4 linked regions of the Homo sapiens genome follow. The protein of the gene in region 1 purifies or fractionates together with the protein of each later gene. This does not show direct contact. Each region holds a gene or a part of one and is shown in the gene's direction. Other genes may lie near its edges.

Evidence for each region. Proteins that work in one complex are often made in the same cells at the same time.
Region 2: the proteins of SLC8B1 (region 1) and EIF2S3 purify together in Homo sapiens (affinity purification with mass spectrometry; one large-scale study listed by BioGRID and IntAct). This does not show direct contact.
Region 3: the proteins of SLC8B1 (region 1) and SF3A3 purify together in Homo sapiens (affinity purification with mass spectrometry; one large-scale study listed by BioGRID and IntAct). This does not show direct contact.
Region 4: the proteins of SLC8B1 (region 1) and CYFIP2 purify together in Homo sapiens (affinity purification with mass spectrometry; one large-scale study listed by BioGRID and IntAct). This does not show direct contact.

What each region holds. Positions count from the first base shown.
Region 1 is NC_000012.12:113,321,610-113,325,109, reverse strand, and holds part of SLC8B1 (mitochondrial sodium/calcium exchanger protein isoform 1 precursor), read left to right. Parts: intron 1-3,500. UniProt on the Homo sapiens protein: Mitochondrial sodium/calcium antiporter that mediates sodium-dependent calcium efflux from mitochondrion, by mediating the exchange of 3 sodium ions per 1 calcium ion.
Region 2 is NC_000023.11:24,064,956-24,068,455, forward strand, and holds part of EIF2S3 (eukaryotic translation initiation factor 2 subunit 3), read left to right. Parts: intron 1-1,042; coding exon 1,043-1,137; intron 1,138-3,008; coding exon 3,009-3,153; intron 3,154-3,500. UniProt on the Homo sapiens protein: Member of the eIF2 complex that functions in the early steps of protein synthesis by forming a ternary complex with GTP and initiator tRNA.
Region 3 is NC_000001.11:37,969,523-37,973,022, reverse strand, and holds part of SF3A3 (splicing factor 3A subunit 3), read left to right. Parts: intron 1-3,287; coding exon 3,288-3,452; intron 3,453-3,500. UniProt on the Homo sapiens protein: Component of the 17S U2 SnRNP complex of the spliceosome, a large ribonucleoprotein complex that removes introns from transcribed pre-mRNAs.
Region 4 is NC_000005.10:157,272,623-157,276,122, forward strand, and holds part of CYFIP2 (cytoplasmic FMR1-interacting protein 2), read left to right. Parts: intron 1-3,500. UniProt on the Homo sapiens protein: Involved in T-cell adhesion and p53/TP53-dependent induction of apoptosis. Does not bind RNA. As component of the WAVE1 complex, required for BDNF-NTRK2 endocytic trafficking and signaling from early endosomes.

The sequences.
Region 1 (3,500 bases):
TCTTTTATCAATGGGGTTGGTATAATTAGTCCCATTTTACAAATGAGACTGAAGCTCAAAGAGAGGAAGGGAATTGCTACAGATACAGCTCTTAGATGGTAGAGCTGGTTGGGCATGGAGGCTCACACCTGTAATCCCAGTACTTTGGGAGGCTGAAGTAGGTGGATCACTTGAGGTCAGGAGTTCAAGACCAGCCTGGCCAACACAGTGAAACCTCATCTTTACCAAAAATACAAAAATTAGCCAGGTGTGGTGTTGTGTGCATGTAGTTCCAGCTACTCAGGTGGCTGAGGCAGGAGAATCACTTGAACCCAGGAGGTGGAGGTTGCAGTGAGCCAAGATTGCTCTACTGCACTCCAGCCTAGGCGACAGAGTGAGACTCTGTCTCAAAGGAAAAAAAAGGGGCTGGGCGCAGTGGCTCACACCTGTAATCCTAGCACTCTGGGAGGCCAAGGCAGGTAGATCACTTGAGGTCAGAAGTTTGAGACCAGCCTGGCCAACGTGGTGAAACCCCATTTCTACTAAAAATACAAAACTTAGCCGGGCGTGTCGGTGGGCACCTGTAGTCCCAGCTACTCGGGAGGCTGAGGCAGGAGAATCAGTTGAACCCGAGAGGTGGAGGTTTCAGTGAGCCGAGATTGTGCTATTGTACTCCAGCCTGGGTGACAGAGGGAGACTCTGTCTCCAAAAAAAAAAAAAAAAAAAAAGGTAGAGCTGAGTGGCTGAGTGGGTATTATGCTCAGGTTGTCCTGATCTCAAAAAAAGAAAAGTTTTTTTTTTTGTTTGTTTGTTTTTTTTTGAGACAGGCTTGCTCTGTCACCCAGGCTGGAGAGCAGTGGTGCCATCATAGCTCACTGCAGCCTCAACCTCCCAGACTCAAGCAATCCTCTCACCTCAGCCTCTGAAGTAGCTGGAACCACAGGCGTGTGCCACCATGCCTGGCTCATTTTTAAATTTTTTTGTAGCAATGGGGTCTTACTATGTTACCCAAGTTGGTCTCAAACTCCTGGGCTTAAGCGATCCTCCTGCCTCAGCCTCCCAAAGTGTTGGGATTACAGGTGTGAGCCAGTTTACCTGGCCACAGATTTCATCTTCCCAGCTGGCATGTGCTTTCTGAGGACAGGACACTGTAGAAAGATTGAGGGGTTGGGGCAGGGCTGGGGGTTTCAGTCTCTGCTCAGGGGATACTGTATGGGTGGGTAGAGCTCTTAGCAAAAATTGGTGAGAAGGCCAGAGGCTCAGAGATAAGAAATCTCACTTCCAGTCTGGTGTTAGTGGGAGTTCAGAGAGGGCTTGTGGAGGAGGTGGAACTGTGGTTTGACAAAGCTTTTAAAAAATTATAATGAAATACACATAACCTAAAATTTACTGTCTTAGCTTTTTTTGTTGTTGTTTTTTTTTGAGATGGAGTCTCACTTTGTCACCCAGGCTGGAGTGCAGTGGTATGATCTTGGCTCACTGCAACCTCTGCCTCCTGGGTTCAAGCGATTCTCCTGCTTCAGCCTCCTGAGTAGCTGGGACTACAGGTGGATGTCACCACGCCTGGCTCATTTTTGTATTTTTAGTAGAGACGGGGTTTCCCCATGTTGACCAGGCTGGTCATGAACTCCTGACCTCAAGTGATCCGCCTACCTCGGCCTCCCAACGTGCTGGGATTACAGGCATGAGCCACCACACCTGGCCAGACTTGCAGTTTAACAATGACATTCCTATCACATTGATCTGAATAAGGCTGCTCATAGCCAATGTGGGTGCAGGCTTATGAGAATTGCTTATTTCCCATTCCTGGTGGGAGTGTATGTAGGTAGAGCTTGGCCAGGGCATTTTGGCAAAATCTAGCAATGTTGAAGATCCCTTGTCAGGGCCTTGAGCATTTCTTTTGGACTGTACTATTTTGGTGGGCTTTTGTTGACTTCCAGTTGCCAGTTTATTGTTCTAGAACCACTTATAAGCATAGTAGGCTAGAGGTGCTGGGGAACTAAAACCTCCATCTAGCAGTCCTCACCCAATGGCTGATGAGAGTTGGTGTATAAATATCCCAGCTCCCTTGCCTCCTGATTAAGCTCATGGTGGTGGTAACTGGCTCAACCCAGCCTTCGTTGGCAGCTATCCCTTCTCTGTACCACTTCTTTTCTCCTATTTCTTTTATTTTTTTCTTTTGAGACAGGGTCTCACTCTGTCACCCAGGCTGGACTGCAGTGGTACAATCATAGCTCTCTGCAACCTTGAACTTCCAGGCTCAGGTGCTCCTCCCACCTCCTCCTCCTGAGTAGTTGGGACTACAGGCGTATGCCACCAAGCCCGGCTAGTTTTTTTTGTATTTTTTGTAGAGATGGAGTTTTGTCATGTTGCCCAGGCTGGTCTCGAACTCCTGAGGTCAAGTGATCCTGCAGCCTTGGCCTCCCAAAATGCTACAGTTACAGGCGTGAGCCACCACACCCGGGCCCACTTCCCTTTCTCTATGTTTGTGTTCCTCAGGTCTCCCAAACATACTATGTCCATCTCAATCTTTGTCTCTGAGTCAGCTTCTGGAGGAACCCAGACCAGGATACCCTCTGATTCAGCACTTTCTCTTCTCAAATCTTCTCTGACAACATTTTTCTCATATGTGCTCAGAGAGTCATGTGTGAGGAAGCTCATTGGCTATATTGAAAAACTAGGCATACCCAAATGCCCAGTAGGGAAATGTTTACCTCAGTGATGTATCACCCATAGTATGAAATACTCTGCTGCAGTGAAAGACTCTGTGGGGAGGCAGGGGAGAACAGTGGGCCCTAGAGCCTAAAACTGCCTGGGTTCCAACCTTGACCCTCCCACTGAGTGCACACGGACATTGTCTCAGTCTCCTTAACTGTTTAATGGGCATGATAATAGTTCCTTCCTCGCAGACTGTTGTGCAGAGTAATTGAGATACATATTTTTTTTTTTTGAGACAAGATCTCATTCTATTCCCCAAGCTAAATGCAGTATTGCAGCCTCAACCTCCTGGGCTCAGGTGATCCTCCCACCTCAGTCTCCTGAGTAGCTGGGACTACAAGTGCACATCACCATGCCTACCTAATTTTTTATTTTATTTTTTTGCAGAGATGGGGTCTTGCTATGTTGTCCAGGCTGGTCTTGAAATCCTGGGTTCAAGCAATCCTCCCACCTCAACCTCCCAAAGTGCTGGGATTATAGGCATGAGCCACTGCCCCCAGCCATCATAGAATTATTGTACAGATTAATTGAGATACATTTTAAGCTCTTAGCACTATGCTTTGCATATAGAAATCACTATAGTATGTTTCAAATTCTGTATATTAAGGTATATTAATATATATATATATATAATGGTAAAAGCAAATTATAGAAACAAGAGATTTGGGATGGATCCATTTCTGTTAAACAAAACAAAGTGTGTAATAGGATATATATACAAATATAATTGATCTGAGAAATGTCTGTAAGGATGTGCTTCAAACTAATTATGGTGGGACCACTGGAGAGGGGGATTTACGGAG
Region 2 (3,500 bases), on another chromosome or scaffold:
ATTTACAGATGATTTTGTTGTTCAATTAACGAAGAACTGATACTGGTATAATTTGATCACCTAGGCTTGTGGTTCCTACACGGGGATGTAGTAGCCTTCTCGAAACAGACATTTGAGCTCCTCTGGCTTTCATCCGAGCTTCTGGTGTTTAGTAGGAAATAGTCTCCGAAGTGCAGGTCATGTAGTCCTAGTGTTTTATAGTTATAAAGCTGAATTGTTCTTACAGGAGTTACAGAGGTCTATAAAGAAAATGTCCATAATCTCTCTGTCTTCAAGTTCTAGTTCCTTAGCCCTAAAGTCAGCAAAGTTAACATTTGGTGTCCATTATTCCCACACTTTTCTCTTTGTTCATATCATCGTGTATAAACATATACACAGGCTGGGCATGGTGGCTTTCACCTGTAATCCCAGCACTTTGGGAGGCTGACGCTGAGGTGAGAGGATTGCTTGAGGCTAGGAGTTCAGGACCATCCTGGGCATTAAGGGAAGACCCCATTTCTACAAAAAATAAAATATTACAGCTGGGTGCAGTGGTGTGTACCTGTAGTCCGAGCTACTCGGTAGGCTGAGGCAGGAAGATTGAGCCCAGGAATTTGAGGCTGCAGTGAGCTATGATTGTGCCACTGCACTCCAGCCTCTATGATAGAGGGAAAAAAAAATCCATATACAGACATTGATTATTTTATTTTTCTTTATGGAAGTGGGATTATATTATGCGTGTAATTTTTATAACTTTTCTTAACAGTATGTGAGGGTCATCCTTCCAGATCATTACATATAGCTCTAACATTGTTAATAGCTGCGTGATGCTCTATAATACTGGTATACCCTATATGCCACTTATTAATAAACTTAAGTTACTTTCATTTTTTCCATCATAAGTAAGACTGCTTAATCATTGGAATAATAATAGATTTTGTTAAAAAGGCACCCCTTTGGTATAAATCTCAAATGGCCACTATTTTAGAAACATTAACATGGAAAATAATATTTCTTCTAAAGTTAAGATTAACAGAACTGACTTTAATTTGTTTTATTTTAGTTATTAGATCTTTTGATGTCAACAAACCTGGCTGTGAAGTTGATGACCTTAAGGGAGGTGTAGCTGGTGGTAGTATCCTAAAAGGAGTATTAAAGGTAAAATGGGTTTTGGTTGTTGTGATTTTGGGTTTTTTTTTTTTGTTGTTTGTTTGTTTGTTTTATCCTTGTCTTAATCAGGAAAAAAAGTATGGACAATCCAAATTGAAAAATAAAATTTTTTCCATGGTTTCTGGTATTTGATGTAGAGTTCTCTTTTTTAATATTCTTTTTTTCTCTCTTCAAACTTCACTCCTCCCACCCTTCTAGACCTCTGAATCCACAATCTACCTTCATGAGATCCACCTTTTTAGCTTCCACATATACAGATGAGTGAGAATGTGTGATATTTGTCTTTTTGTGCCTGGCTTATTTTACTTAACAAAATGGCCTCCAATTCTAGATGTGCTGCTGCAAATGGCAGAATTTTTTTTTATGGCTGCATAATACTTCATTGCATATATATATATGCTGCCATTGCTTTTCTTTTCTTTTTTTTTTTTTTCTTGAGGCGGAGTCTTGCTGTTTCGCCCAAGCTGGAGCGATCTCAGCTCACTGCAACCTTCACCTCCTGGGTTCAAGCGATTCTCCCTGCCCCAGCCTCCCAAGTAGCTGGGATTACAAGCACCCCCCACCATGCCCAGCTAATTTTTGTATTTGTAGTAAAGACAGGGTTTCACCATGTTGGCCAGGCTGGTCTTGAACTCCTTACCTCAAGTGATCCACCCGCCTCGGCCTCCCAAAGTGTTGGGATTATAGGCGTGAGCCACTTTGCCCGGCCTATATACTGCATTTTCTTTATCCATTCATCTGTTCATGGGCACTTAGGTTGATTCCATGTTTGGCTATTGTGAACTGTGCTACAATAAACATGGGAGTGCAGATACCTCTTTGATAATATTGCTTCCCTTTCTGGTGAATGTATACCCACTAGTGAAACTGATGGATCATATGGTAGCTGTATTTTCAGGTTTTCAAGGAACCTCCATACTGTTCTCCATGGTAGCTATACTAATTTACATGCTCTGATAATAGTTTTTTTTTTGTTTTGTTTTTTGAGCACAGTGGCATGATCTTGACTCACTGCAACCTCCACCTCCTGGGTTCAGGTGATGATTCTCCTGCCACAGCCTCCCGACTTGCTGGGGCTACAGGCACTCGCAACCTCGCCCAGCTAATTTTTTTGGTAGAGATGGGGTTTTGCCATATTGGCCAGGCTGGTCTCTTAACTCCTGACCTCAGGTGATCTGCCTGCCTCAGCCTCCCAAAGTGCTGGGATTACAGGCATAAGCCACCACGCCCAGCTATATTTCTTTGTTTTCTGTTATGTCTTTTGAATGTGTCTGACTTGAAAATTTATAGACTTGTAAGTATGGAGCACATTTGATGTGGTAATAGACTTGTGTGGTGGGTAGTTAACAACAGTTGGATGGTTCTGGTTTTGACAGTCTCGTTCACATCTTTTTTTTTTTTTTTTTTTAAGAATAATGATCTTTGAAATACAGGAATGATTGCCTTTTCAGTTTTATGGTCTTCCGGTTGGACCTTTATTATTATTTTATTTTATTTTATTTTTGAGACAGAGTCTCTCTTTGTCACCCAGGCTGGAGTGCAGTGGTGCGATCTCGGTTCACTGCAACCTCTGCCTCCCAGGTTCTAGCAATTCTGCCGCAGCCTCCTGAGTAGCAGGGATTACAGGTGCGTGCCACCACACCTGGCTAATTTTTGTGTTTTTAGTAGAGACGGGGTTTCACTATGTTGGCTGGGCTGGTCTCGAACTCCTGACCTCAGGTGATCCACCCGCCTCGGCCTCCCAAAATGCTAGGATTACACATGTGAGCCACCGCACCCAGTCCCTGTTGGAACTTTTGATAGGTAAATGATAATTTTGCGTAACACAGTAATTCTAATTACTAATTATATGTTTACAGGTGGGCCAGGAGATAGAAGTAAGACCTGGTATTGTTTCCAAAGATAGTGAAGGAAAACTCATGTGTAAACCAATCTTTTCCAAAATTGTATCACTTTTTGCGGAGCATAATGATCTGCAATATGCTGCTCCAGGCGGTCTTATTGGTAAGGATTTTTTTCTCATCTCTTTTAATTTGTGGCTATTTGTGGTACTTTTCATGGGGGATGGATTACCAAAAGGGACATATTACAGATTTTTAATTGGGTATTTTAATAATAGAGTAGGGTGGGGAACAATCATGTGGTTAAGCTCTTGTTTTAGGTTATAAGATGGTTTCATGGGTTTGTAAAAATTATTTTTAAACACAAAGGATACATTTTGATCAAATATAGAGTAACTCCTTTTTAGCAATATAAAAAAATAAATTTGATGACTTATCATGTAAGATATTTACCTACACTTATGTTTTTGTTAACATGATTTTTGTGCTAGATAATGGTTGCCTTTTTTT
Region 3 (3,500 bases), on another chromosome or scaffold:
TATTTAGTGAGACAGGGTTTCACCATGTTAGCCAGGCTGATCTCGAACTCCCGACCTCAGGTGATCCACCCACCTTGGCCTCCCAAAGTGCTGGGATTACAGGCGTGAGCCACCGCACCCGGCCCACATTTAAGTCTTTAATCCATCTTGAATTAATTTTTGTATAGGGTGTAAGGAAGGAATCCAGTTTCAGCTTTCTACATATGTCTAGCCAGTTTTCCCAGCACCATTTATTAAATAGGGAATCCTTTCCCCATTTCTTGTTTTTGTCAGGTTTGTCAAAGATCAGATGGTTGTAGATGTGTCATACTATTTCCAAGGACTCCGTTCTGTTCCATTGGTCTATATCTCTGTTTTGATACCAGTACCATGCTGTTTTGGTTACTGTAGCCTTGTAGTATAGTTTGAAGTCAGATAGCGTGATGCCTCCAGCTTTGTTCTTTTGGCTTAGGATTGTCTTGGCAAGGCAGGCTCTTTTTTGGTTCCATGTGAACTTTCAAGTAGTTTTTTCCAATTCTGTGAAGAAATTGGTAAGCTTGTGAAGTCATTGGTAGCTTGATGGGGATGGCATTGAGTCTATAAATTACCTTGGGCAGTATGGCCATTTTCACAATATTGATTCTTCCTATCCATGAGCATGGAATGTTCTTCCATTTCTTTGTGTCCTCTTTCATTTCGTTGAGCAGTGGTTTGTAGTTCTCCTTGAAGAGGTCCTTCACATCCCTTGTAAGCTGGATTCCTAGGTATTTTATTCTCTTTGAAGGAATTGTGAAGGGGAGTTCACTCATGATTTGGCTCTCCGTTTATCTGTTATTGGTGTATAAGAATGCTTGTGATTTTTGCACATGATTTTGTATCCTGAGACTTTGCTGAAGTTGCTTATCAGCTTAAGGAGATTTTGGGCTGAGACAATGGAGTTTTCTAAATGTACAATCATGTCATCTGCAAACAGGGACAATTTGACTTCCTTTTTTCCTAATTGAATACCCTTTATTTCTTTCTCCTGCCTGATTGCCCTGGCCGGAACTTCCAACACTATGTTGAATTGGAGTGGTGAGAAAGGGCATCCCTGTCTTGTGCCAGTTTTCAAAGGGAATGCTTCCAGTTTTTGCCCATTCAGTATGATATTGGCTGTGGGTTTGTCATAAATGGCTCTTATTATTTTGAGAAACATCCTATTAATACCTAGTTTATTGAGAGTTTTTAGCATGAAGGGCTGTTGAATTTTGTCAAAGGCCTTTTCTGCATCTATTGAGATAATCATGTGGTTTTTGTCTTTGGTTCTGTTTATATGATGGATTACGTTTATTGATTTGCGTATGTTGAACCAGCCTTGCATCACAGGGATGAAGCCAACTTGATCATGGTGGATAAGTTTTTGATGTGCTGCTGGATTCAGTTTGCCAGTATTTTATTGAGGATTTTTGGATCGATGTTCATCAGGGATATTGTCTAAAATTCTCTTTTTTTTGTTGTGGTCTCTGCCAGGCTTTGGTATCAGGATGATGTTGGCCTCATAAAATGAGTTAGGGAGGATTCCCTCTTTTCCTATTGATTAGAATAGTTTCAGAAGGAATGGTACCAGCTCTTTTTGTACCTCTGGTAGAACTCGGCTGTGAATCCGTCTGGTCCTGGACTTTTTTTTGGTTGGTAGGCTATTAATTATTGCCTCAGTTTCAGAACCTGTTATTGGTCTATTCAGGGATTCAACTTCTTCCTGGTTTAGTCTTGGGAGGGTGTATGTGTCCAGGAATTTATCCATTTCTTCTAGATTTTCTAGTTTGTTTGTGTAGAGGTGTTTATAGTATTCTCTGATGGTAGTTTGTATTTCTGTGGGATCGGTGTTGATATCTCCTTTTTCGTTTTTTATTGCGTCTGTTTGATTCTTCTCTCTTCTTTATTAGTCTTGCTAGCGGTCTTATCAATTTTGTTGATCTTTTCAAAAAACCAGCTCCTGGATTCATTGATTTTTTTTGAAGGGTTTTTTTGTGTGTCTGTCTCCTTCACTTCTCCTCTGATCTTAATTATTTCTTGCCTTCTGCTAGCTTTTGAATGTGTTTGCTCTTGCTTCTCTAGTTCTTTTAATTGTGATGTTAGGGTGTCAGTTTTAGATCTTTCCTGCTTTCTTTTGTGGACATTTAGTGCTATAAATTTCCCTTTACACGCTGCTTTAAATGCGTCCCAGAGATTCTGGTATGTTGTGTCTTTGTGCTCATTGGTTTCCAAGAACACTTTATTTCTGCCTTCATTTCGTTATTTATCCAGTAGTCATTCAGGAGCAGGTTGTTCAGTTTCCATGTAGTTGAGCGGTTTTGAGTGAGTTTCTTAATCCTGAGTTCTAGTTTGACTGCACTGTCGTCTGAGAGACAGTTTGTTATAATTTCTGTTCTTTTACATTTGCTGAGGAGTGCTTTACTTCCAACTATGTGGTCAATTTTGGAATAAGTGTGATGTGGTGCTGAGAAGAATGTATATTCTGTTGATTTGGGGTGGAGAGTTCTGTAGATGTCTATTAGGTCCGCTTGGTGCAGAGCTGAGTTCAATTCCTGGATATCCTTGTTAACTTTGTCTCGTTGATCTGTCTAATGTTGACAGTGGGGTGTTAAAGTTTCCCATTATTATTGTGTGGGAGTCTAAGTCTCTTTGTAGGTCTCTGAGGACTTGCTTTATGAATCTGGGTGCTCCTGTATTGTGTGCATATTTTTTTTTTTTTTTTTTGAGAAGGAGTCTCACTCTGTCGCCCAGGCTGGAGTGCAGTGGCGGGATCAGAGCTCACTGCATCCTCAAACTCCTGGGCTCAAGCAGTCCTCCTAACTCAGCCTCCTAAAGAGCTGGGATCACAGGTGCACACCTCCATGCCTAGCCAATTTGTAAATGTTTTGTAGAGATGAGATCCCATTGTGTTGCCCAGGCTGATGTCAAACTCCTGGCCTCAAGTGATTCTCCCACCCCAGCCTCCAAAAGTGATGGGATTACAGGCGTGAGCCACCACACCCAGCCAGGAAATATTTTAGAGTCAGAATAGATGAGACTGTTTTCTGTTGTTCTATAATAGCCTCAGATGAGTAATTAGGCAAGTGATGTAAAACCTTTGACTCTTTTCTTTGGGATCAGGTAGAGCCTGCTGATAAGGAGTTCTGATATGAAGGCAAGATTTTCCTTTATTCTGTAAGAAAGAACCTTATCCTTGGAAGTAAGGGGTCAGCAAAAGTTACAGGAAAACAGGAAATTTCCCTTCTTATTCTGCACTACTTTTTTCTGACTTTTCATTTATGGACCTGCTTTAGGAACAGCGACATCTCACTCATGAAAATGTACAGCGCAAGCAAGCCAGGACAGGAGAAGAGCGAGAAGAAGAGGAAGAAGAGCAGATCAGTGAGAGTGAGAGTGAAGATGAAGAGAACGAGATCATTTACAACCCCAAAAACCTGCCACTTGGCTGGGATGGCAAAGTAAGTCTCAGCACTACCACTTTCTCCCCATTCCCCATTTTGGAAACA
Region 4 (3,500 bases), on another chromosome or scaffold:
TACTTCCTGCTGTGATGGATGGAGATTTCACTTTCTTACACCATCTCCCTCCCTCCCCTGCCCCCGTCTCTCAAGATAGGAAGAGCTCTATTTTAACCTAAATCAGGTTTAAAGTGTCTACATTATTAATATATATAAATGATGATCACAGACAGCCAAGTAAAGTCCTTTGATTATATTTCCTTTCTTAGAGGGCTTTTCATTTCGCTGCAGAATTTTTGTTGCAATACTTGTCTTTTTATTTATCTATTTATTTATTTTGAGATGGAGTTTCACTCTTGTTCCCCAAGCTGGAGTGCAGTGGCGTGATCTCAGCTCACTGCAACCTCTGCCTCCCAGGTTCAAGCGATTCTCCTGCCTCAGCCTCCCGAGTAGCTGGGATTACAGGCGTGTGCTATGACACCTGGGTAATTTTTTAATTTTAGTGGAAATGGGGTTTCACCATGTTGGTCAGGCTGGTCTTGAACTCCTGATCTCAGGTGATCCACCTGCCTCGGCCTCCCAAAGTGCTGGGATTACAGGCACGAGCCACTGTGCCTGGCCCTGTCCTTTTCTTTTAAAGCTCTGTGTCATATGAGTTATTCTATTGCAGTCCCTTGTCTTCTCAGGAAGTGCAGTGTTAACCCTAGCTCCACCCCTAACTAGCCCAGTGACCTTGCACAAGTCCCTTCTCTTTTCTGAGCCTTGGTTTCCTCATCAGTAGAAAGAGAGCTAGGCTCCCTTCTTGTTCTCATTCTAAACCTCAGAACCTATCACCCCACCCACCTCACAGGCAGTAATATTATTACTCCTCAGTTAATATTATCTGAGAAGTCTTTACTCCAGGGTGGGGCAGCCCCAGGACCTGACAGATGGCAGAGAAACCAAAACAGGCAGGGGCAGGGGGAGGGAACAAACAAGCTAGCTGGGCCTGCCCTGTATGGTCTAGTTCACCCCTGCAGTTTAGGGGGCTGCTCTGTGGGGTGGTATGGTTGTATCTATTACTCTTTTCCTCCCCTGCTATCCCCGTTGGTTTTTGCTCTCCACAGCCTCTGCTTGTAGGGGCATCATTTACAGTCCCCAAACTCCCCAAGCTCCTACTCTACCCCCAGCTCTCTTTGTACCCCTTCTGCTTATGTTACACTCAAAGTTTCCCAAAAAGTAGTTATAAAAATACTAACTTTTGGTAGCAGCTTTATTGAAATATAGTTTGCATACTGTACAATTCACTCATTTAAAAAATATAGTTCAGGGCAGGCATGGTGGCTCATGTCTGTAACCCCAGCACTTTGGGAGGTCAAGGTGGGTGGATCACCTGAGGTCAGGAGTTTGAGACCAGCCTGGCCAACATGGCAAAACCCTGTCTCTACTGAAAATACAAAAATTAGCCAGGCATGGTGGCAGGTGCCTGTAATTCCAGCTACTCGGGAGGCTGAGGCAGGAGAATCGTTTGAACCCGGCAGAGGTTGCAGTGAGTGAGATCATGCCATTGCACTCCAGCCTGGGGAACAAGAGTGAAACTCTGTGTAAAAAAAAAAAAAAAAAAAACCGTTCAGTGGTTTTTAATATATTCACAGAGTTGTACAACCCATAATCGTAGTCAGTTTTAGAGCATTTTAGCACCCCAAAAAGAAATCTCATGGCCTTTAGCACCACCACCTATTTCCCCCAACCCCACCCCTTGGCAACCATAGATTTGCCTATTCTGGGCATGTTTAATAAATGGAACAATACAATACGGGGTCTTTAATGATTCGCTTCTTTCACTTAGCATAATATTGTCAAAGTTTATTCATGTTGTATCAATATCAGTACTTAATTACTTTTTATGGCTGAAAAATACTCCATGTGGCTATACAATTTTTTATTTATCAGTTGATGCATATGTTAGTTCTGCTTTTTAGCTATTACAAATAATGGTGCCATGAACATCCATGTACAAGTTTTTGTGTGGACCTGTATTTTCATTTCTCTTGGGTGTATGCCTAGGAGTAGAATTGCTGGGTCAAATGGTAACTGTGTGTTTAAAAATTTGAGGAAATACCAATCGATTTTCCAAAGTTGCGGCACCATCTTACATTCCCATTAGCAACGGTATTCTCAGTTTCTCCACATCCTTGCCAACACTTGTTATTGTCTGTCCTTTTCATTATAGCCATCCTAGTGGGTGTGAAGTGGTATCGATTTGCATTTCCCTAATAACTAAGGTTATTAATCTTTCTGTGTGCTTATTGGCTATGTGTATATCTTTGGAGAAAAATCTGTTCCTTGCCTATTTTTAAAATCAGGTTCTCTTTATTAATGAGTTTTAAGAATTCATTTTTTAAATTTATTTTTATTTAAAAAAATTTTTTTGTAGAAACAGGGTATCACTCTGTTGCCCAGGCTGGTCTTGAACTCCTGGCTTAAGCGATTCTCCCATCAACCTCCCAAAGTACTAGGATTACAGGCATGAGCCACTGTGCCCAGCCAAGAATTATTTACATATTTTATATACTTAGCAAATACATGATTTGCAAATATTTTCTTCTATTCTGTGGACTTACTTTCTTGATGGCGTCCTTTGAAGCACAATTTTTTTTATTTTGATGTTTAGTTTATTTTTTATTTTGTTGCTTGTGTTTTTGTTGTTATTACATAATTCAAGGTCACAAAGATGTACTCTTATGAGTTTTATAGTTTTAGCTCTTACATAGATCTTTGATCCATTTTGAGTTAATTTATTATATATTACATTATTTATACCTCACACCATAAAACAAATTTTGCATGTGGGTATCCAGTTGTCCTAGAATCATTTGTTGAAAAGAATATTCTTTCTACATCTCTTGTCAATTGACCATAAATGTGAGGATTTATTTCTGGATTCTCAGTTCAATTCCATTAATTTAATCATTGTTCATTGTCTTCATGGTAACACCACACAATTTTGATTACTGTAGTTTTGAGTATGTTTTGAAATCAGGAAGTGTGAGTCTTCCATTTTTGTTCAGTTCCTCCCACCCCCAAGATTGTCTTGATTATCCTGAGTGAGTCCCTTGAATTTCCATATGAATTTTAGGATCAGCTTGTCAATTTCTGCAAAGAAACCAGATGAGATTTTCATAGAGATTATGTTGAATCTGTAGGTTAGTTTGGGCAGTATTGCCGTGTTAACAATATTAAGCCTTCCAACCTATGGACATGGGATATCTTTTTATTTATTTAGGTCTTTAATATTTTCAACAAGGTTTTATTGCTTTCAGAGTGTATGTTTTGTACTTATTTTGTTAAGTTTATTTCTAAGTATTGTATTATTTTTGATGCTACTATAAATAGAACTGTTTTCTCCATTTTATTTTCATATTGTGCATTGCTGGTATATAGAGATACTACTGATTTTTATATGCTGATATTGTATCCTACAAACTTGCTGAACTTGTTTATGACTTTCAATAGTTTTTAGTGGATTTTTCTTGGATTTTCTATAACAAGACTATGTTATCTGCAAATAGGAATAGTTTTACTTTTTCCTTTCTAAT